3 separate regions of the Homo sapiens genome follow, and all the other regions are linked to region 1. The links come from fine-mapping of genetic effects on gene expression. A gene starts in region 1. Each other region holds a variant in brackets. All regions are shown on one strand. Distances are between the middles of the regions.

Region 1 (7,498 bases):
GTTCCCTGGCTTGGTCTGCTCCAAATCTGGATTCCACGTGGGGGCCTGCTATTTGTAACCTTGGGCAAGTCACAGAATGACATGTCCTGTTGCAGGAGCATGATGTGTGGGAGACCAGGTCTGTCACGGGCACTGCAGAGAGCACTTGGCCCCTGGGGGGTTATCATTGCCCTGCTCCACATCGATATGGGCGGTTTACACTGTGCAATGCCTCTCCCCTCCCTGCCCCGGACTGTGAATCCTTTGAGGGCCAGGATGGAGACCCATCCTGCCATTGCGGAATCACCTGAGGCCGGGGAACTGCTGCCTGTGAGCCTATGAAGGAGGCAGCAACTCCCCAGCAGTGGCTCAGGCAGGGCCCTGCGTGTTCTTCATCTCAGTCATCCTCCCCTTGACCTGGAGGGGCCAGGATGGAGGCATGGCACCATCCACAAAGGAAGAAACCAAGCCTCCTCGAGGCAGGTGACCCGCCAGGCAGGTAACAACAGCGTAAGAAGCAGCATTGGGATTCTGTGGCCCAGGTGACATGGGGCCACCAGCTCAGTTCCAAACATGGAAATATAGGAGGATGTTATATGGCCTGGTGTCCTCAGTTTATAGATGGGGAAACTGAGGCACAGAGAGTTTATAACTGGGAGGGTCTCAAAGGGACGAGGTGTATGTGGGCTCAGTAGGAGGAGGCTGGGAATTCACACCGATTCCCTACTGGAATTGGACAGTTCCGGCACCACACCCAGCAGCCTGGGACTGTGAACCGGAAAAAAACGCTCCTTTCTCAGGGACCCCCAGCCAGGCCAAAGCAGCTTCTGCAGTCCCCACCCAGGCCCCTGTGTGGGTCTCAGCTGCCCAGAGGGGTGGGCCTGTGTGCAATGGATGGGGGCTGGGGGGTACTGTAATCATTATTTTTCTTTACATATATTTTGAACCTTGATTTTCTATTCTATTTTCCAGACTCCAGGCCATGGAGTCAGGCCCATGTCTCTGCCTGCTTCCTGGTATTCGCCCTCGGCAGTCCTTGCCAAGACTTCTTTATTTACTTGTTTGTTTGTTAATAATATAAGAAACATCCTTGACCCATCCCTCAGCCTGAGAGCAGGAACGTCAGCCTGTGCGCTCCCAAGCAGGGCCCACTTCACCCCACGTCCCGCTGTATGCCTTGCTATAGCCAGATGCACTCTCAAAAAGAACATTTTATTTACAGTTCTTTTTAGCCTTCTAGAAAGCGTACTGTGCTGAACTTCATCTTTGGAGACTTTACTTTCTCTCTAGCCTCATAGCGCTGAGATGCCCCGTAATGTTCTGTGCGGCTGCAGTGCATTTGGGTAGCTGAAGAGTGTTCCGGTGTTTGGCCATAACACCATGCATTTTCCTATTCATCCACTGGGCCGTCTCCAGGGCTGTCTCCAGGTTTTTCCATAGCGCCGCTGTGAGCTTTCTAGAGCCTGGTCCCCTCGGCCGAGAGGGGATGTTGGTGCTTTTCCTCCCCCACAGTTGCTGAGGCAAAGACCCACTGTGCAAGAGGATGTGGTCACAGTGGCCTCCCTGAGGTGGGGTCACCTTCCCTCCAGGCAGCCCTCACCCCGGTCTGCCAGGCAGGTTGGTCTTTGTTGTGCTTCCAACCTCTGTCAAAGGTGAACTTTTAAAATTCCTGCCTCGTAGGGTGGATCGCAAGGAGTAAATGTCATTGGCGGACCCATACTTTTCTATGTCATAGGTGTTCCAGATCTGGTGCACAGGAGGTCTGCTTTGAACTATAACAAAATCCACAGGGCAGTCCAGGCTCAGAGAGACAGAGAAACATGCCCAGGATCACACAGCTGAGAAGCGGCAAGGGACTTGAACCCGTGTTCAAACCCCAAGCTCAGAGCCCTTTTGTTTCTCTGCTGCTATGCTGAGCCCCAGACAAGAGGCAGGAGGAACTTTGTGTGCCTTGTTCCCTCTGCCAGGAACACTCCCCCACCCCCACCCCCGCCCCACCGCCCGACTCATCCTTCAGGTGTCCACACCAGACCCCCTGGTCTGAGTCCCCAGCCAGGCGACCCAGGACGAGTTACTGAAACTCTGTACCTCAGTTTCCGCATCTGTAAATTGGGGATAATCACAGCCCCTCCTAATCATGAAGATTAAATAAATACCACCCCCACTCCCGGCCCCTACCCCGTCAGGCTGCATCAGGCACTCTGGGCGCCCATAGCCCCCTGGTTTCCCATCGTGGCACCCATCGCTCTGGGCTGCCATTGTTGGGACCGTGGTTAGATGAGGGGCACCCAGACCAGTCTGAACTCGCTCTCTGTCCACCGAAAGGAATGGAAAAAGGAGGTTTATTTCTGGCCTGGCTCAGGATGGGCAGGCTTCCAGGGATGGGTGGGAGGCAGAGGAGGGCTGGCCTCCTTTATGGCTGCGTTTAAATGCCACCCAGAAGCCAGCCAAGGGCGCCGCCAAGGTACCACGATGCACGAAGGCCCAGGGGTGGGAGACGGCCATGGGCTGGGGGGGTGCCTGGCACCCAGGAAGTGTGGCTGCAGAGGCCAGCCAGGCCCCTGGGCTGTGTCCAGACAGTCATGGAAGCCACTGATGTGTTTCGAACAGTGGCAGGTGTGGGCATCCCCCGCCCTGTTCCTGCCCCATCCCCACCCCATTCCTACTGGCAGGGAGGACCCTCTGCTGCTGGGTGGGGACAGGCCAGGGGTAGGGGGGCAACAGCAGGAAGATCAGCCCAGCTTGGAGTCAGGCAGGTGCCACACACCCTCTGTGGGCTCTCGGGTCCCAGCTACCCTTCCTCCCCGGGCTGGTGTGGGGACCGTTTGTTTTACCCACACCCCTCCCCGGGCCATGCTGGCCAGAGGGGCTTGTGCAGTGGTGCCACTGACCTCCATTGCCCAACAGAGACTGAGGGCCACGGGAGGGAACCCACATGTATTGTGCCAAGCATCTGCTGAGGTGCGGACCTGGAGCCCGGTGCCCTGGGTCTAAGCCCCTGCTGCTTCTAGCTGTGGGATCTCACAGGGAGTGTCTCTAGTTTGCTCACCTGTAAAATGGGGCTCTTGCTGGTGCTCTGAGGATGCACAAGGCTGTAAGACCAGAGGCTGGAGTGCGTGGGGACTGCGGGAGCAGCCGCTGCCATCCTGGGCCTGGGAGGTGGCGGCCCTAGGCCCAGGCGGGAGCTGGACTCCTGCAGGGCTGACTCAGCGCCCTAGCCCCACTCCCCGCCCTGAGGAGCACACTGAATTCTTGTCAGCACACAGAGGCCAGCCTGCGCTGGAAAACACTCTTTTGCCTATACAAGGCTCGACCAAGTTGCTCTCCTTTTATTGGGGTTTAAGGTTGGTGGCAACCAGGAGCCGGGGAAGAGGCCAGCAGCTGCAGGGAGACCGCAGCCAGCGGAGGGGGCTTCTGATCCCTCAGTCACAGGGCTCGGCAGGTAAGGAGCAGCCTGTGGAGGTTTCCAGGTCCTCACTGTGCAGGGGCACCTCTGTTCCTTCACGCTGACCCTGGGGTCCCTGCCCTGGCTAAGCACTGGGTCTAAGGGAGAAGCCAGGCAAGGCTGCTAAGTGACTCCTAGTCACAGAAGAATGGGAGGGGCCGGGGTGACGGCTATGCCAGTGGGGCAAGATGGGGAGCAGGCTCTGATCTAGAGGGGTGGGAGCCCTGTGGGGGTGCACAGATGCTGGTGCTACTACCTACCTGCTGTGTGACCTTGAGCAAGTTGCTGACCGTCTCTGTGCCTCAGTGTCCTTGTGTCAAGAGCCTTGCATAGAGAGGGGTTGGAGAGAAGGCCAAAGGCTCGGGGGAGGGTCCGGCATGGCCTAGGGAGTGCTCTCAGGATGCCCTAGTCATGGCCTGGAGGGCATTTGGTTGGCTTCACGGGGGTGAGGTGGGTCTGTTCGACCCACTTCAGAGTCTGCAGTCCCAGTCCAGCATCACACCGGTACGAAATAAGTGAATAGATGAATGAATGAATGAATGAACGAACAAATGAATGCATTGGCCCCTCCGAATACGCCTTCAAGGCAGGTTTGTTGTCCCCATTTACAGATTGGGAAACTGAGGCTTAGGGCTTTGGCTTCTCTTCACTCCAGTGAGGAAGGGGTTCTGGGGACCAGGGAGGCTGAGGGAGCTGAAGAGAAACCCAGAGCCACCCCCACCCCGAGGCGAGCGCCATGCCTGTCTTTCCTCTTCCTGCCCTGACACTTTAAGTGATTCATTCTTCATGTGATATTTTTGTGTTTCTCCAGTGGGAAAAAAATGCCTCTGGGATTTCCAGGGGTTGTTTTATCTCCATGGTGCAACCAAATAACTCAGGAGGACAGAGAGAAACAAAGGGTTGTTGAGCTGAAGAAGGCCCATGATTGTCTCGGCCAAGCTCTCCCTTTAATAGGGGAGGAAACTGAGTCTGGCCTGAGCCCCTCGCCCTGTGACCCAGTGTGGCCCCCTGGAGGACAGTGGGGCATCTAGGGCCTTCAGCAGGGTTGGGGTTTCCAGCTAAGCCCCTTTCAGCTGTGTGTTCTCGCTCAAGTCCCCCTTTCCCCAGGCCTCAGCTTCCTCATCTGTAAAATGGGATCACAGTGGTGCCTACTTCCAACATTCGAGACAGTAGCACATGCAGAGAACTTTGATGGGTGCAGAACTGGCCCAGGCCAGGGGCTCAAAAGGGGGAACCATTGAAACAGCTGAGTTTGTAACTTGGACTCAGAGCCCAGCTGGCTGGGGCATGGTGGATTCAGCAGGGAAAGGTGTCAGTGAGGGACAAGAGCCTTATTAGGGATACACTGGAATGGTTATCCACTGAGGGAGGGATCTGGGGAGATAGGAGAGGTTTCCACGTTGGAGGTCACCTGCGTGCCTTCCCAATTCCAGCACCCAGGCCAGCACCCTTCGTGGCAGTGTGCTTCTCCTCGTGGCCCTGACCCTGAGAGCAGCCCCATGGAGCAAGTGGTATGCCCGCCTGGTAGGGAGACAGTGAGGGCCCAGGGGGTGTGAGCCGGCCCACCTCAGCTCCCCTGGACTTAGGGGGACCTGTCCCACTGGAGCCCTGGAGTTGGGTTTCTAGGCTAAAATAAGGGACTTCCACCCAGGGCTGATGGCCCAAGGTCACTCCCGGTGGTGGCCGTAAAAGTTGAGGCCATGTCTCAGTTGAAGGAGATCTCCTGCCTGGATCTCTGCTGTTCCCATCTGGAAGTTTGCTCTTTGCAATAAAACAAACCAGGCCAACGAGTGCTAATGGAGTTCCTACTCTATGGCCGGCAGACATTTATTCAGCACCTACTGTGTGCAAAGCATGGTGGGGCGATGCAGAGGCACAAAATTTCCCACCCTTGAAGAGCTTGTACTAGGCAGGGAAGCAGTAAACCAACAGGTAAGGCAGAGGGAAATCCGTGCCAACTAAAGGAACAAGCAAAGCACGGAAAGATGAACTGGGGAAATCAGACGTAGACATGGAGTTCAAACACAATTTCATTTGCCAAGGGGCACACAGGACCCTCTCTGGTACCTAAACCATCAGCTTTGGGAACAGTAGAGTAGGCAACATCGGATAAGAACGGTTTATGGATCAGCTGCTAATGTTCTGGGTGCCCTGCTAGCTTCTGGTCCTTTCTATGTTTGGTATACCTGCAAGGTGTGGGGCACGGCTCCCGTTTCACAGATGAGGAAGCTGAAGCCCGTGAAGTAACTTGCCCTAGATCACCCAGCTAGTTAGTGATAAAGCTCTGATCCAAGGCCAAGGAGACTCGCTGCAAAGCCTATGTGGTCGCCCCCAGCACCCTGTCTGGAGTCGAGCAAACCTGGGTTCAGATTGCAAACCTTCCACCCTCCAGCTCTGGGCAATCACTTAGTTTCTCTGAGCTGTGGTTTATTTATCTCAGCAATGGAGATGATCATTGCTTATGTTCATTCAACCAATTAACACATGTTTATAAAGTGCCTACTACGTGTCAGGCCTGTGCTGCCCATAGAGATGAGCAAAAACGAAATGGTCTCAGCAGGGCTGGGTTCGGGGATGTGACCGCTGCAGGGCTAGGCATCAGGTCAGCAGGGCTCAGGTCACATTGGCCGTTACTAGGGTGTGAGGTGCTGGCCCTTCTCACTCACTGTCAGCCGTGGAGCCCGGCACCCCAGCTGCAGGCGAACGGGCTGCTTCTCTGTCCTTCTCCAGCCATACACTCTGGCTGCCTCGGTCCTGGCCAGCACAGCGAGGAAAGATGTCCTAGTTCTCTCCTGCCGCTTCCCCCTGCAAGCATGAAGGGGTCACAAAGACATGCTTTGATCTCACTTCATATGCAGGCGTGGAGCCTCGAGAAGTGTTTATTCCTGGACTTCACGTTTCAGAGTGAGATTTCATAACCTCTAAGTGGATGTCCTGAAAACAAAAGTTCACAAACTCAGGATTAGGTCTGCACTGCCGAGGAAAGGCCCTGGAGACTGGGAAACTTGTGGAGGTTAAACATCCCTGATGATACATATGTGCACACGTGTGTACATGTGTGTGCTGTGTGGAGACAGGCATGCACACAAGTGCTGCCTGCAGGGGTAAACACTCTTATGAGTCGTGGAGACAGGGCACAGGAGCAGACCCCGGGGTTTGAGTCCCCTCTCCGAGCCCCACATTCTCCATCTGTGTAACAGAGAGACTGAGGGTGCAGCATAGGGCTGGGTGGGAAGGGAACGGGTGAGGAATGGGGAGCATTGGGCACCGTGCTCTGCCCTGGGCTCGGGTGATCTGCAGCTGCTAGCCCGTCTCCTCGTCTGTACTTCCTGCCCTTCTGCTGGGCCGCTGCCTACCCGCAGGACTGTTGGTGGGGCTCCAGAGAGCCCTGCCCTGTTGAATTACTAATCCGTGCTAATGCTACCACTGCTAATCATCGTGCCCACATAGAATTACTCATCATTACGTAATCTACTGTCTGTGACCGCCTCCCCCCAGGCTGTAAGCCTTATGGCAGCGGGAATCCCCCACGCCCAGAACTGTTGGTCCACAGTAGAGACTCGTTAGGTGATCCCTGAGTGGCGACCAGGAGAGAAACCGCTCCCTGACCAGTGGGGTCAGGAGGGCTGGTAACTGGGGCTGCTTGTGGATGAGGTGGCACTTGAGCCAGGCCCCATGGGCAGGTTCAGTTTGGACGTACACGGTGGGGAAAGGGATGCCCACGGGCAGGACCAGCTGGGCAAAGGCCCAGACTCCTGAGCTCCGCCACCAGCCGCTTCACACCCAGAATGCTGGGCAAGACTCATCCTCACCCCAAGGTCAGCCTCCCGCCCCCCATGACAGTAGAGTAGGTGGGATGTGTTTGGGGAACAGGCCACTTGTCCTTTGTTCTCCATCCTGTGGGGTTCAGGCCCGAGCGTGGCCCCTGTCTAAGGAGGGCCAACCCTGGGGCAGAGGTCATGGTTCTGCCACCCTCGGCAGCCCATGCTCTGTTCTCCCAGCTCACTCTCAAGTTAGGACACAAACCAGGCACGCTGCACAGAGTGCTCCTGCCCATGCTGGCCCCAGATGAAC
Region 2 (7,498 bases), 28 kb after region 1:
AAACCTGGCACTTAGAGCAATTCCGTGGGGGCTGCAGCAGGGAGGGTGCTGGGGAAAGCAGGAGGGCCTGGGAACTGGAGCCAGGCCTGACTCCTCGGTCTACATGGACATCTACCCCGGGGACACCTGCCCCAGCATACTGGATGGGGCTGCAGGCCTCTTTTTCCTGGAATTCCTGGAAGGAATTCCATATCCAGATGCCTCCAGGAAAAGCTAGCCTCTCTTTAACAGTCTCTTTTTAACATAAGGCCGCTGGGGCCTGGCTGTCAGTCATTTACACCTTAGCATGAGCGAGCCCATCAGTCTGATGCAGGCTTCATGGTGGTGGGGGCTGGGAGGTGGGGGCAAGGAGGCAGCAAGGACGCACAGTGACCGGGAGCTGTGGGATTACAGCTACAAAGCCTAAGCACTGGCCTACAGCTGCTCATGGGATGTGCTCAGGACATGCAGAGACCTCCCAGCCAGGAGCTCCCAGGCACCCGAGCAGCATCTTCAGGCCAAGAACTTGGCCAAGTGAGAGGAGGGAAGGCATTCTAGGCAGAGAGCGAAAGCGAGCTTCCCCGGCCCTGGGCTCAGCCCTGGTCAGGGCCAGAGGAGCCCAAGGGAAGCAGCCCCCATCTTCCTACAGAGGCCACTGCTGGCGCCAGGGCTGACCTAAGCCTGGGAAGATCTGGAGCCTGGAAGTCGAGACTGGGAGAGGCCTCATGCTCATCTCCTCCAGGCCCAGAGACAGGCAAGGGTTTTCCCAGGCCACACAGCAAACCAGGCAGAGGAAGAATTAGAACCAGGTCTCCGGGTTCCGGGCTGGCCCCTTCCCCCCAGCCTCAAACAGGGTCTTAAAGGATCTGCTGCCCGCGAGACCTCCGTCTGGGCGAGAGCGAGGTGAGTCTCTCCCTGGGGATGTGCAGCGGTGGCGTGTACAGGCCGGACACTGGCTCCATTCACGCCTCCTCGACACCAGAAGCGCACACCCACCCAAACACATGCCTGCAGCAGGGAGCAGACGGAGGCGGCGCCGGAGTGATTAACAGATCGGTGGCTTCAGGCAGCCACAGCCCCTGGCACGCACTGTTAGGGCTCGGCAGCTCCAGCTGCTGTGGCAAGCCCTGGACACCATCCACTCTGGGCACAGGTCGGGGAGACTTGGACCCTGGCCCTGGGGAAGGGTGTGGGAGACAGATGTGGCTCTGGGTGACAGGGGCTGGGTTTGAGGGAAACTCAGGGCTGTGGGCCAGAAGACAGGCTTGACCCAGCTGCGTAGGAGGGTCAGGGTGTCCGGAAGACTTCCTGGAGGAAGTGATCTTCGACAAAGGGCCGGTGGGAGGTAGGCAGGGGAGGAAGGGGGCAGGGAAAGAAGGCACGGCCTGTGCAAAGGCCGGGTGCTGGAGCGCAGACCCTGTCTGCAGTGGAGTCGGCTGACACCGGGAGAGCCAGGCTTCACAGCGGGCTTCCAAACCCTCCCGCAACTTTGGCCACCTCTGCCTGAGGAAGGCAGAGCAGCCCTCGGTGGGGAAATGTTGGGCAAATGAATAACAGAAGTGAGGTCATGGGGCCCGGACAGCCCCAGCCATGCACAGCCTGGTCGTGTTGAGTGAAGGGGACCCCTGGGGGAGGCTGAGAGAGGGTCTAGAGGGCAGAACCTGATGCCTCTGCTCTTGGTCCAGCAGGATGGGGAGGACCTCCGTCCTCACAGCAGGGGTGAGGCAGTGAGAGCATCCCGGGTGCCAGGAACAATGTAGGCAAAGGTGGGGCAGGGGCACCTGCAGGAAGGAGGGAGAGGGCAGACCAAAACAGCACCAGGTAAAGGAAGAGGCTGCCATGTCCTGGGAGCCCCAGATGCCAGCTCAGAATTCCCCCCAAAGTGTCTGACTCTGTGGGACCCTCAGGGATCCCAGCCCAAGGACTCAGGGTCCTGGAGGATGCCCAGGTGGGGACCAGGCCCGGGCAGTGGATTCCAGGGAAGGAGGCGAACAGGCAGGCAGAGGAGAGGGAGCCAAGGCCCCGCCCTCCAGAGGGGCTCAGTACCCTCCTCCCGGGGACCCCAACATAGCCCCAGGACACATTCTCTAATCAGCCCCACTGATGAAGCCGGCCTGAGCTGGACTGCTCCCCTCTGCTTGCTCACTCCCTCTCTGTTTGTTCGCAGCAATTACACCGCCTTGTTGGGAGTGTGGATCTATGGATTTTTCGTGTTGATGCTGCTGGTTCTGGACCTTTTGTATTACTCGGCAATGAACTACGACATCTGCAAGGTCTACCTGGCACGGTGGGGCATCCAAGGACGATGGATGAAACAGGACCCCCGGCGGTGGGGGAACCCCGCTCGGGCCCCTCGGCCGGGTCAGCGGGCCCCACAGCCGCAGCCTCCCCCAGGCCCGCTGCCACAAGCCCCACAGGCCGTGCACACATTGCGGGGAGATGCTCACAGCCCACCGCTGATGACCTTCCAGAGTTCGTCTGCCTGGTGAGTGGCTACAATTGAGACCCAGAATGATTTGGGTCATTGTCTTTGGAGAGCTTGGAGAATACGCCATCACTCTCGCCATAGTGTTTGGCTCATTGGTTGCCTGATTGTTTGCTTATCTTGTTGTTTGCCAAGAAAAATTTCAAACTGTTATGGGTAGCCTACAACACATGCCTAGACAGGAAAGTCAAAATGAGAGGTGGAAACAGAGCTTAGAAGCAAAGCTTGCAAGCTCATTGCGCTTAGAGCCCAGTGTGAGAGAGGTAACCACTAAACATTTAGTGGAGTTTTGGGTTACCTAGCTGCCAAGGCAAAGGGGAAAACCGGATGGCTTTTTGAGTTGTAAATCTGGCCAAAGGAAGCAAATCAGTCTGTCCAGCCAGATTTTTCAGCATGAGGTTAGAAAATACAAATGTTACTTAGTTCCTTATGTGTACATGCCTTGTATGGCATGAGGGGTACTAGTTCTGACTCAGGCAGGCTGTGAAGGAAGGAAGGAAGGAAGGAAGGAAGGAAGGAAGGAAGGAAGGCAGGAAGGCAGAGAGGTGGCATCTCAAGGGTTGGCCTTGTGGGGTGGCTGCCCCAGGGTTATGTTCAGATCTGAGCTTGTCTACTGCAATTCCCATTTCCGCCCAGTTCCAGTATGGTGGGGATGGGCCTGACCTAATCCCAGGCGGCCCTGGGTAGTGCAGCATCTAGAGTTGGAAGGGGAGAGGCAGGGTCTGTGCGTTTGGAGCAGGAACTCCCTGGGAGGCTGGCTAGCACCAAGGACAGGAGCCAGACTGAGGGTCGATTCCCAGGTCAAGGGCTAGAGTGAGAGGTTCGGATGCTCTGTGGGGGCTGAGCTGCAGCCATGGGCACACAGGGCTCAGGGCACGTCATCCAGGGACATCATGATACCAAGCCCAGGCTGCAAGACCCATCCCAGAGCCCCCTTGCTGGAGGGGTGCAGGAGTTTGC[C/T]GCACAGTGACCCCTGGGTTCATGTGCAGGAGCTTTGCAGGTAACCTAACCTGGGTCTGAGTCCCGGCTCTGCCATTTACCTGCTCCTTGACTTCGGGCATGAGATTTCACCCCTCTTAACCTTCCGATCCTCGTGAAGGAGGAGTGGGTAAGACTGCCCCCTCCCAAGGATTAACTGTGCACCTACCTGGCACATAGTAGGTCCTCAGTTAATCCTTGCTGCCTCCTCTTTGGAGGCAGCAATGACGTGAGTTAGTGATCGTTCACATAGCTAGCAGGTAGTGACCTTTTCAATTATTATTAAATAATTAATAAGATGCATAAATCAGCTTGTGCTTATCGATTGAATAATGACACCATCCATCACACAGGAGACAAAGACACAGCCCTGTGTGGCTCGGTTTGACAAATGCTGGCAGAGTGGGTCCTTGGGCAGGGGTTTGTGCCAGGCTCTGGGGGATGTGGAGGTGATGGGTAGAGAAGAAGCCAGCCTCCACCCTTGAGCAGTGGGGACTCCAGAGAGCTACAGACAATAAAATGTCTGTTGGCAGGACCCAAGAGTGGGGTGTTCTGAAATGTGGATCCTTTGCAACAGACACACCTAGAGGGTTTGTCAAACTAAAGACCCAGAGCCTACTGACCAGGCATCTCTGAGGGTGATGCTCATAGGCACTACAGCTCAGGAGGCACTGGAAAACGTCTATAAGAGCCAAGCTTTTTGATAGCTGAGAATCTTCCGTTTAAAACGGTGGTCCTCCCCCACTCCCGCACCTTTTGCATGCACATACATTTGGAATAAATAGCTCACACCTCGCCGAACACTTGCCAAGGGGATGGAGGATGTCGTGAGCACCCTGCACTCAGCACCTGGGTGCTGTTTTCCTGCCCCGGCCTCAAGGTCTTCCATTTCCTACGTCACTGTGCTTGCTGCTAACAGCTCCCCGATCTCATCCTGCCCAGAACGTTTTTGCCTGTCTCAGCAGCAGTTCCCACCCTACCCCTGTTCCATATTGCTTTTCCCCAACAAGCACACATTGTGCACCTGCTGTGTGCCAGGCACTGTGCTATGCCATCAGGATGCAGAGAGCTTGCCAAGCCTGCAGGGATTGTGCACGGAGCCTGAGTGGGCAGCTGAGCTCCAGGTCCAGGTGGGACACTTTTCCTTTTGGAGCTCAGAGGCTCTTCGTCTTTCCTGACCGTCCTGAGTGCAGGCTCAGGAAGGTGTTCCCATCACCCTGTGAGCGTGAAAAAAGGTTGTCAGAACCCACAAAGGTGTGGTGCAGGATAAGGGAATAGCCAGTCCCTGGCTGGATTCACGGGCACCGTCCCACTCCCGCTGTGCTCTTTGACACGCAGCGTGACTCTGGGTGAGGAGCTTCCTTTTTGGGCTTCAGTTTTGCCAGTTGAGGAACCAACGTGAGAGGGGATTTCATTTGGAGATCAGGGAGGAGCCTCCTTTCCTGCCACTCCAAGGTCCTCCCAGCTGTGTGACCCAGGACATCTCCAGCATTATAGCTCTGACTGTAACCCGACTAGGTCCCTGGTCCCCGGGTGGCCCAGCCTCCATGTGGTGTCCCAGTCAATGAAACACCACTTGGCACCCAAACAGCCATTACAAACGCCCTCTGCGGCCCTCCTCGGGCACACTGGAGAATGTCCAGGCAAGGAGTGTGGACCAGGGAGGTTCTTGAACACTCATCAGCCCCTGGAAAGGCTTCTGTTCCCCTCACAGCCCTCTCAGGAGCCTCCTGCTGAGTGCCGCTGCTCTTCAAAATCTCTCTTCACTTCTGCTTTCACCTCCAGAAGTCTCCTATGAGCCCAGCCTCTGTGGCTTCTCTGCCTTTCTCCCCTGCCCACCCCAGCTCTTTCTCCTGCGAATGAATCCAGCTTCTCCAGCTCCTCAGGGCTCCCTGTGCAGGGGCAGCAGGAGGAAGACAGCTGCAGACACACCCACATCCCCTGAGCTCCTGGAGTCTCCTAATGAGGCCAGCCACTTCTGGGGAGGCTTAGTGGGACCCAAGCAGTGGGTCAAGGACCACCGCAGGGGGGACAGAGACAGGAGGCCAAGGCACTGCCAGGACAGGGCAGTCAGGTGATGCCAGGGGAGGTGGAGGCAAGGGGCAGCTGTGCTGGGGGCCAGGACTGCCTCAGTGCCCAGGAGTTCCCTGCCCCTGGCTCCCACCCTGGCTGCTGCAGCGGGAGGGCCCACGGTGGGCGGGGAGCAGATCCCAGAGCTGGGGCAGAGGAGTAAGCTGGGCGACTGCTGGGCCCAGCCTCAAGGCCTTCGGCTCCCCAGCGGAGGCCGGCACAGCCTCCCCTCTCAGAAACCCCTTGGGTTTGGTGGGTGAGGGCCCCGAGGCAGCCCCCAGGCCACCGCTGAACAGCAGTATTGAAGGCCCTGGCGGCAGTGGCTCAGCCCCACACAGCCCCCGCCTCTTGGTCCCCACAGACACGCACTCCATCAATCATAAGAAATGTGATTTTCCTGCCAGCTGGCTGGGCAAAATCCAAGTGCTGCCGAATCGCGTGGCCAGGCAGGTGGGGCGTTGTGCCGTCCCCCGCCCGTGGGATTTATAACTGAGTTAGGAGCCAGCAGGGGCGTCAGGAGTGGTGCAATGGTCACAATGCTCAGCTGCCTTCGTTTAATTTCACGGAGAAGCGGGGCTTTCCCTCCGCTTAGTAGCTACTGAACTCAGACTGTGAAGTTTCTTGCTCAGATTCTCTGGACTGTGTCTTCTCTGGTGACCCCAAGACTCCACCCGTCATTTCCTCCTGAAAGTAGTCAGGACAACCCCTGAGGGCCCAGAGCCCAGTGTGACCCAGCAGGCACCCCAGGGACACCGCACCTGCGACAAAGTGCCTTCGTCACCTAACGGTGTCTCCTTCGCACTGTGGAGGTCCTGGGTTTTCCTCCCAGGCGTAGAGAGCCTCTCTAAGCACCTTGGCCCTCCTTGCACAGTTGCACACTCAGTTCACAGCGCGGCAGGAGGCAGCACTACCCCCTACACACACAGACACAAACACACACACATACACACTCACACACACACACTTCCACCAGTATTCAGCCCAGCCAGGCCCTCCCACCAATCCCCGACCTGACCTCACTATCTGGACCTCCGTCCTCCTGCTGGACTCCCTACCCTTGTCAGTTGTGCAGTGGTGTGCAGCTCCCCCGACCAGAACCTCAGCCCGACTCAGGGCCCCAGCACATAGTAGCTGCTCAGCAAATCCCGTGTAAGGGATGCAGCAGGAGCATCAGCACTAGGGGTCTGGGACAGGGTCTGGGCTGAGCCTTCTCTCCCCTCAGGTGGCGGGCCCTGGTCCCCTCACCCTGACAGCCCAGGTCTCACCTCTGTACAGCCAGGGCCCACCTCAGGCTAAAGGAGCAAGCAGTGGAGGGGGCACCGAGGGAAGCTGCTGTGCCCCCAGGGTTAAGCCAGGCCCGAGGATGTTGCCACGTTCCTGCCACATGCTGTGCTGTCATCATCACTGAGGCTGTGGCCTGGGTCCTGGGAGGTGCCGCTCTCATGGTTGTGATGGTCATTATTGTTGCTGTCTCAAATCCGGGGCACAGGCAGTGGCTCCCAGTCAGACACACCCACCTGGCCCCGCCAGTGCCGCACAACCTGCCTGCCCCGAGCCTCCCCTGCCTGAGCCTCAGTGTCCCTATCTGTAAACTGGGCAGGGCTGGCCTCTCAGTGCAGTTGTGAGGACCTGATGGGGGCTGACATCCTCCTGGGACACCCAGCTCCACTCCCCATTGTCCCCACCTCCCTCCCTCCCCCATGCATCCACATTCCCATCTCTGAGAGAGGGCCTCGGCTGCCTCCTAGCCTGCTCCCTAGCCCTTGGTGGCCTGACTCTGCCTCCCTACCTGAGCGGCCCCCTCCTGAAGCTTCAGGCTGCTGTTCAACACCCTGTAAGACCTGCAGGGCCCAGCAGAGAGTGCTGGGAACCACGGTTAGTGCTTGACTTTAGACACTGCCCCCCTTGGTATTTCCATGGACTCTTGTCACTCCCACGCTGGGGACTGGGCTCAGCAGGACACCTCATCACCTTGTGTGGATGAGT
Region 3 (7,498 bases), 48 kb before region 1:
TCCCCAGCGCCTCCATCCCTGTGCTCCGTCCTCCCACTGTGCTCCCCTCATTTCGGCATTTATCGCTCTGGCCTGGAGGTCACTCCTTCCATGCATGTCTTCAAAGGCAGAAACCGTGTCCTGGGCAGGCTCTGGCACAGAGTGGCAGTTCCATAAATAACCAGATGAAGCCTCTGTCCCCCGGGGATGGGGGTGTGTGACCTGGGATGTGGCAGTCCCAGGGCCTCTTCCCTGTGCCTGAGGCCCAGCCCCTCCTTCCTCAGGTCAGGGCGAGCCCCCCCAGGGGGAGGTGGGGTCAGGATGATCCCACCACTGCAATTATAAATGCGGCAGGATGGAGGATGGGGTGAGCAGGGGCTGAGGGGAGCCACTCTGATGATTGACAGGGAGTATCCAGGGTGGACAGGTTGCCCTGCCTCTGGACCTTGGTGTTCTCATCTGTGAAATGGGGGCAGTGAGCCAGGCCCGTTTAAGTCAGGGGACTCTGGGCTCCCTCACACAACTAGCGCTCCTGTGGGGACGCTTGGCCTGTCTCTTGGCCAGCCCAGAGCGGCCGTCTGGCTCAAGTGCTGACTCAAAGTGCGTCAGACAAGGGGCCAGAGCGGGATTCCCGGAATGCCCTGGAAAAGTGCTGGCTACCGTCCAGGCGCCGCCGCCAACCATGTGGAGTCTCTCTCATTCCACAGGGAACCCTCATTACTCTCCGGACTGGCGTTCCTGATCCAGCCGGGCTGGCCCTTCCAGAGGGCTGGGAGCCATCAGGGCCGGGGCTGTGGCGAGCAGAGGGATGTGCCAGGTGGTCGTCGTGGCCTCATGTCCTGGGTGTGAGCCTGGGCTGGTCTGAGAGCACTTGGGGCTCGCTCACGCAGGCTGCTGAGCTGGGGGCTCCTAAGCCAGTGACACAGGGCCATGGAGGAAGGAAGGAGCCGGGGTGAGTCACCATGCCTTGAGGGCCCCAAGTCCTAGGGTGAGGTCCTTCATCAGACACTCATAGTCAGGCACCAGGGGCTGCAGATGGCCCCATGCTCCCCGCCCTCCCTGCCCCCACAAAGCCGGCAGTCCACCCAACGAGGCCGAGTCTCTGGAATCAGGCCACATCTCTCTCAGCAACACAAGGCAGCTCCTGGTGGGGAGCGGGGGAAGCCCATTTTACAGATGAGGACACTGGGGCTTAGCAGGTCTAGGGGACTTACTGCAGACCCCGCAGCCAGGACGTAGCAGGGCCACTCGCTCATTCAGTCCTTCAACTACCGTGGGCTGAGAGGCAGGATAGCCAGCGTCTGCACACTTGGGCTAGGAGCCCAGCAGTGCCAGGGGTGACTCCTGGCACCCCCACGTTCTAGGCGTTTACCTTGGACAAGTCACAGCCCCTCTGGGCTTCAGATTCTTTATCTGTGAAATGGGTCTGACACAGTATTTGCCATGGGCATTGAGCATGGTATAAGCCAGCCCATGTCAAGGGCTCAGGGTGTGGCCAGCACACAGCCAGTGGGTGCCCATGTTTGCTGCTATGGTCAACTGGATGGAGCCTTGTGCTGGGTCCTGGGTGCTGGGAAGGGAAGTGAGGGAGACCAAATCCCTGCCTTTGAGATGTTCTTTAGTCTTGTGTGTAAAATAGGGACAAAAATATCTAGCTTCCTTAGGAAGAAAAATAAACAAGATAACTTACAGAAAGCATTTCTTGGAGCCAGGCGCTGCTTGGAGGGTCATTCAATAGGCATCGGTCACCTTCTGCATTTCCCTGGGTGTAACTTTCAGACCAACTGGTGTAAGCTACTTTGGACTCCATTGAATGGACCCACCAGGGCTCACTCAACTGCTTGTTCCTCTATGTGGTTTTTCAACCAGGATGCTACGGCCGAAAGTATCTTTGGAACTAGAGCGTCCCTAAGAACAGTCCCTGGAGGCAGAAGCCGGGCCCTGGCTATAACTAACCCCTGGCTGTAACTAACCCCTGGCTGTAACTAACCCCTGGCTATAACTAACCCCTGGCTGTAACTAACCCCTGGCTATAACTAACCCCTGGCTGTAACTAACCCCTGGCTATAACTAACCCCTGGCTATAACTAACCCCTGGCTGTAACTAACCCCTGGCTATAACTAACCCCTGGCTGTAACTAACCCCTGGCTATAACTAACCCCTGGCTATAACTAACCCCTGGCTGTAACTAACTCCTGGCTGTAACTAACCCCTGGCTATAACTAACCCCTGGCTGTGCTCTGTCAGGGACGGTGGAAGGCATTCCTTTGAGAGAAACATTTGGGATCCTCTGGGTAGAGAATCGTCTTGGACAGGCTTGGGGCTGGGAGCCCTGCCTCCTCTAGAACTGAACCCCAGTAAAACTGCCAGCCAGGGGCCCACGGCGGGTACCCTGCAGGGGGACTCCAGCCTGAGAAGGTCTGCAGTGCGGCTTGTGTTTTGCTCGAGTTGCCATATACCAAGGCAGCACCGATGGACGGGGCAGCTTCAACAACAGACAGCCATCTTCTCACCACTCAGGAGGCCAAGGTCCCAGCTGGGTGGTTCCTCCTGAGGCCTCTCTTCCTTGGTGCGTAGATGCCACCTTCTCCCAGTGTCTTTGGCCACCTGATTGTCCCTCTGTGGGTGTCTGTGTCCCAGTCTCCTCTTCTTATAAGGAAACCAGTCCTACTGGATTAGGGCCCACCCCATTGACTGCATTCTAACTTAGTCACCTCTTTAAAGGCCCTGTCTCCAGGTACAGCCACATGTGGAGGTATGGGAGTTAGGATTTCAACACATGAATTTTGGGGGCCATAACCGAGCCCATAGCATGGGTGATTCATCAGAGTTCTAGGATTTAAAGAGCCTGAGTTATTCGAGACTCCAGGATCACTACCCCAGTAACTGCTGCGACAGCACCCTTACCCCTGCCCTTCTCAGGGGAAGCCAGGTCTAGGGGAGACAGTGACTTGTCCAGGCTCTCACAGTCAGGGCTGAGGCAGAATTGAACCCAGGCCTGGTTCATTCCAGAGCCTGACGGTGCCAGTCGGGAGCCCAGTGCTGGAAGGAGCTGGGAGGAGACAGAACTTGAGACCTATTTACCTTGGCACCCGCAGTGCCCGCTTGGGCTTGGCACACAACTGCTGTTCGGAAGTTGTTGGATGAATTCGACAATGACACATTTGGGCACAGTCCTTGCCCTGGGGGCACACACACCCCCCGATGAGAAGGCAGGCTCGCCGGCACACACCCGAACACCAAGATCACCGAGGCCAGAGCCAGGCCACTTTTCCTTTCTGGTTTGGGCCCTGCCAGCCTCCACACTGGGCCAGTGTGGAGCTGACCTTTCCACGTCTGCTCTGCAAAGCCCAAGCCAATTCCTAAGCCCTCGGCTGTCCCAGAACTGAGTCATGACGGAAGCTGGTGGGATTCCTGGGGGGACAGATCTAGCCCC[C/T]ACACGTCCTTGCGTGCCTCCATCCATGCCAGCCGGCTCCAGCCCATACCACACCACCCAGAAATCCGCAGCTAGCACACGTTTCCACTGGAATGAAGCACTGCCCTGGCCCTGGCTCCGAATTCCTTGCCGCTCGCAGTCTCCAGCCGGCCGCCAGCTGTAACAGCCTGAGATGGCCTGCAGGGCAGGGAGCTGCAGTAGCAAAGAACATTTGTTTTCATCCGGTTGGAATTTTCTCTCCAAATTACACTGGCTGCCGTGGGCCTACTGTGCGAAGCTCCATTTACAGAAACCCTGGGCCACAGTCTGGGCATGACCTGCTCTCCCCAGAGGCGCCTTTCCCAGCTCGGCACCATGCTACCCAACATTCGCGTGCCCTGGGTTTCCAGGCCCCTTCCTGCCTCTGAGCCTTTGCCTACGCCGTTCTCAGTCTCAGAAATCCCTTCCCAGCCCACCCTGCTGCAGCCCCGGGTGGGGCAGGGCAAGGCCCACACTTGCGTCTCCATTGTACTCCTCACCGGCTGCCAGACTTAAGTGGGCTGCTTTGCCTCTCTGAGCCTCGCTTTCTTGGTTTCTTCATCTGTGGAATGAGAATAGGCTTGGGGGAAGCCTGTGTCCTGCAGGCAGTGAGGGGATTGGCAGGAGCCAAGGTGAGAGAGCTTTTGCAAAGCAGGGTAGCTTTTTTTTTGCGACGGAGTCTTCTTCTGTCGCCAGGCTGGGGTGCAGTGGCACGATCTCGGCTCACTGCAACCTCCTGGATTCAAGAGATTCTCCTGCCTCAGCTTCCCAAGTAGCTGGGACTACGGGCTTACACCACCATGCCCAGCTACTTTTTGTATTTTTAATAGAGATGGGGTTTCACCATGTTGGCCAGGATAGTCTCGATCTCTTGACCTTGTGATCCGCCCTCCTTGTCCCCCAAAAGTTCTGTGATTACAGGTGTGAGCCACTGTACCCGGCCAGCGGATAGCTTTGAAGGCTGCCTCAGCCAGCCTGCCCCTGGCCCTTTGCACACACGCCCATGCAGCCCCATGGGGAGGATGGCTCCTCTCCAGCTAGCCCCGCAGCATGCCATCATCGCTAACCCCATGGGCCGAGCTTGGGCCCATGAAATCCTCATGACTCTCTCTGGGGAGTAAGTGTCCTCACTACCTGTTTTCAGGATTAGGAAGCTGAGTTGAGCAAGGGCTGAGTTCACCCCACCAGGAAGCGGCTGAACTGGGACTCAGCTCTGCAGCTGAGGAGTCCCAAGCACCAACCTCACCAAGGTCTGCTGGACCGCAGGTGGGGGCCCAGGTAACACGCATGTCCCCACACGTGTGGTCTACCCCTCATCCAGGGTGCTCATCCTGGGGTCCCTCTGGGCCTAGGCACATTGCCGCCTAACCAAATCTGTGTTCTGTTAGCAAGAAACTGGGGAGATGGCTCCCATTAAGGTGCACACAGTTACAGCGGAGGACTGGTACTGTCCCTGATGGACACCCAGAGGATGCCTTCTGGACACCAAGGGGGCCTGAGCCACTGCCTCAGCAACACCCAGCACTGAGCCCTTTGCCGCCCTCACCCTGCCAACCTAATTCAGCATCTCTTTCCTCCCCTGCTGACCCCAAACTTCGACTGAGAACCTCGGGTCTGTCACACACACTGGGGTCCCCAGACCTCTGGGTCCAGTACCTGCTGGATCCTCAGCGTGCCCCCGCCACCTCCCCCTGGCTCTGGGCATTTGTCCCGGCCCCTCACCACCTCCTAGGATACCTCGAAGCCCTGCCACGTCCCTGGGGAGACTTGGACATTCACACTGTGGTGCGCAACCTCCTGCTCCTAAGTGTCTCCCCCTCCACGTGACAGAGCGCCGTCCTCGACCAAACTTTAGCCAGGTGTCTCTGAGCCCTCTTCTGGCACAGGCCTTGACCTTGGCTGGCAAAGAATCCCGCTAAGTCAGTTCAGGGAGAGAATCCCCCACCCTTGATCTCAGATCAAGTTCCTCTCTCCCACTCTTGATCGTTAAGTCCTTGTCCCTTTAGCAAGAATCCCACCGGGCCTGGGTAGCAGGAAGTCCTCTACCCTTGATGTCAAATCTAGTCCTTCTGAGTAATTTTCCATCCACTGCCCCTCACTCTGCTCCTTGGCCATAAATTTCCAGCTGTCCTTCCTGTCTTCAAGGTTGAGTTCAAACTCTGTTCGCTGTTACAATCATCTTTGGTAAAGTCTTCTTTGCCATTTTTAAACACGGGTCAGGTGCAATTTTTCTCTTTAACACATACCCCTTAGCCCTCCACCAGCTTAACCATCCCCCCGAAACTGCTCAGCCCTGAAATCTCAGTCCATGTCCTGGTTTAGAGCAAGCTTGACATTCCAAGTGATAATTTCACCTCCCAAGGGGGCTCTCTCAGCTCCCTGCCTCTTCGTTTCTTATTCGTAAAATAGGTACAGAGGATTGAAAGGATATCAGGCGCCGCACAGAGCCTGGCTCAGAACAGGCACACGGCAAAAGTGTGTTTCTCTCTCCTTCTTTGGCTCTTGTTTACAAGAGGCCTTAAACCTGCCAGCAAAGAAGGATTGCACGTTGCTGGGATATTCTGTCTTCCAACGGGGAAAACAAAATCCCAGGTGGTGAGCGAGCGGCAACTCCCAGAAACGGTGACATCTGCCCAGCTCCAGCTTCCCCATTTATCCCTCGAGTTCAGTGCTCAAAAGGACAGGCAGGTGGCCAACCGCAGAGACTAAATTGAATGAAAAGAACCAGGATGCCATTGGATGGTCCAGGCTCGGCCGCGGCAGCGTGTGGGTCGTCAGCGAGACTGGCTCAGCGTTCTGTTTTCTCTCCAACTGGAACAGCGGGGCAGGGAGCCGTGAAATGTTTCAGATGTTTGTTGGAGTTTCTTTTCTTATCCTCACGCATGTAGCTTTGGGAGCTGGCTGGAATGTAAGCATGACCCGCCTGACTCCCTTGCAGGGGAACCAGTATCTTTACTTCAGCTGGCTTTGACAGCACAGTCTGGGGACCCTGAGGCTCAACTGATGTGACAACTCTGAGTCTCTCCTGGGGGCAGGCCTTGGTGGCCTGTGAACTCTTGCTCCTGGTTTTTCATTTCAGGAGGCTCAGAGAAGGCAAGGGGCTGGCCCGAGGTCACACAGCAAATAAGCTGGGAGCCCAGAAGCTTGGATTCTCTTCCTTTTATGTTTATTTCAAAAGCCACGTGCTCCAAGAAGCCTTCCTGCACATGCCACCTTATTCCAGGCTGGGCCAGGTGCCCTCTGGACCCCCGAAGTCCCCGAGTTCAGAGCCCTGATCGTGCAGCATTGCAATTGCTTTTAATGTAGCTGCGTCCTTGGGGCAGACATGGTATTGTGTGGGCACAGAGGCAGCAACAAGTGGTGAATGAGTGAATGTCTGCACAATGCATGCAGATCTTTCCCTTATCCTCAAGGTGGCCTCCTCCCCTGCACATAGTGGTGAGCAGAGCCCCTAACCACGAGGCTCTTTTATCTCCAGGATGGCCAGCTCAGACCTGGAAACTGACAGCTAATTAAAATAACACGATTCATAAAAACAACAGTAAAAATAACTGTCACATTACTGCCGCCAGCAATTACTGAGCATCGCTACAAACCAGGTGCATTTTCTGTCATATTTTATTGAAGGAGCGTGACAGCCGTAGGAGGTGGGTATTATTATCCTAATTTTTCAAGTGATCAACTGGAGACTCAGAGAAGCGACTCCTTATTTGAGGAATGAAGGTTCCACTGGCAAATGAGACAGGTCAGAACAGCGGAGGGCACAGGGTGAGGGCTGGGGACTGGCCAGTTTGTGCTTGGCAATGACATTAGGGCTGTCCTAACGAAGTTTCGCAGACTGAGTGGCTCAAGTGATGGAAATGGGCTGGATGCGGTGGCTCACGCCTATAATCCCAGCACTTTGGGAGGCCGAGGCAGGTGGATCACCTGAGGTCAGGAGTTCGAGACCAGCCTGGCCAACATGGTGAAACCCCGCCTCTACTAAAAATACAAAAAAGTAGCCAGGTGTGGTGGTGCATGACTGTAATCCCAGCTACTTGGGAGGCTGAGGCAGGAGAATCACT

Which allele goes with the higher level. Positions count from the first base shown, and alleles are read on the strand shown. Sizes are in standard deviations (SD) of each study's normalised expression. Not every link is listed here.
For the expression in transverse colon of the gene that starts at base 3,221 in region 1, T is the low allele of the variant in region 2 and C is the other (moderate effect, 0.58 SD a copy in GTEx).

Evidence for each region. PIP is the estimated chance that this variant, and not a neighbour inherited with it, causes the effect.
Region 2: its variant is fine-mapped to the expression of SHISAL1 in transverse colon (GTEx, PIP above 0.99).
Region 3: its variant is fine-mapped to the expression of SHISAL1 in nasal epithelium (TOPMed, PIP above 0.99).

Annotation. Positions count from the first base shown.
Region 1 is chr22:44,308,674-44,316,171 of GRCh38, reverse strand. SHISAL1 (shisa like 1) reads left to right here and starts at 3,221. Exons shown (of 5, transcript NM_001099294.2): 1 at 3,221-3,421. LOC101927499 (a long non-coding RNA gene) reads right to left here and starts at 3,161. Exons shown (of 2, transcript XR_244444.3): 1 at 3,029-3,161; 2 at 1,173-1,751.
Region 2 is chr22:44,280,394-44,287,891 of GRCh38, reverse strand. SHISAL1 (shisa like 1) reads left to right here. Exons shown (of 5, transcript NM_001099294.2): 4 at 2,147-2,464. Among named protein-coding and RNA genes, the nearest start is that of SHISAL1, 29 kb to the left of the region's middle. RefSeq lists enhancers at 5,266-5,765, 6,677-7,177. The variant C/T (reference allele first, on the strand shown) is at 3,425.
Region 3 is chr22:44,356,842-44,364,339 of GRCh38, reverse strand. No RefSeq gene overlaps it. Among named protein-coding and RNA genes, the nearest start is that of SHISAL1, 48 kb to the right of the region's middle. The variant C/T (reference allele first, on the strand shown) is at 3,417.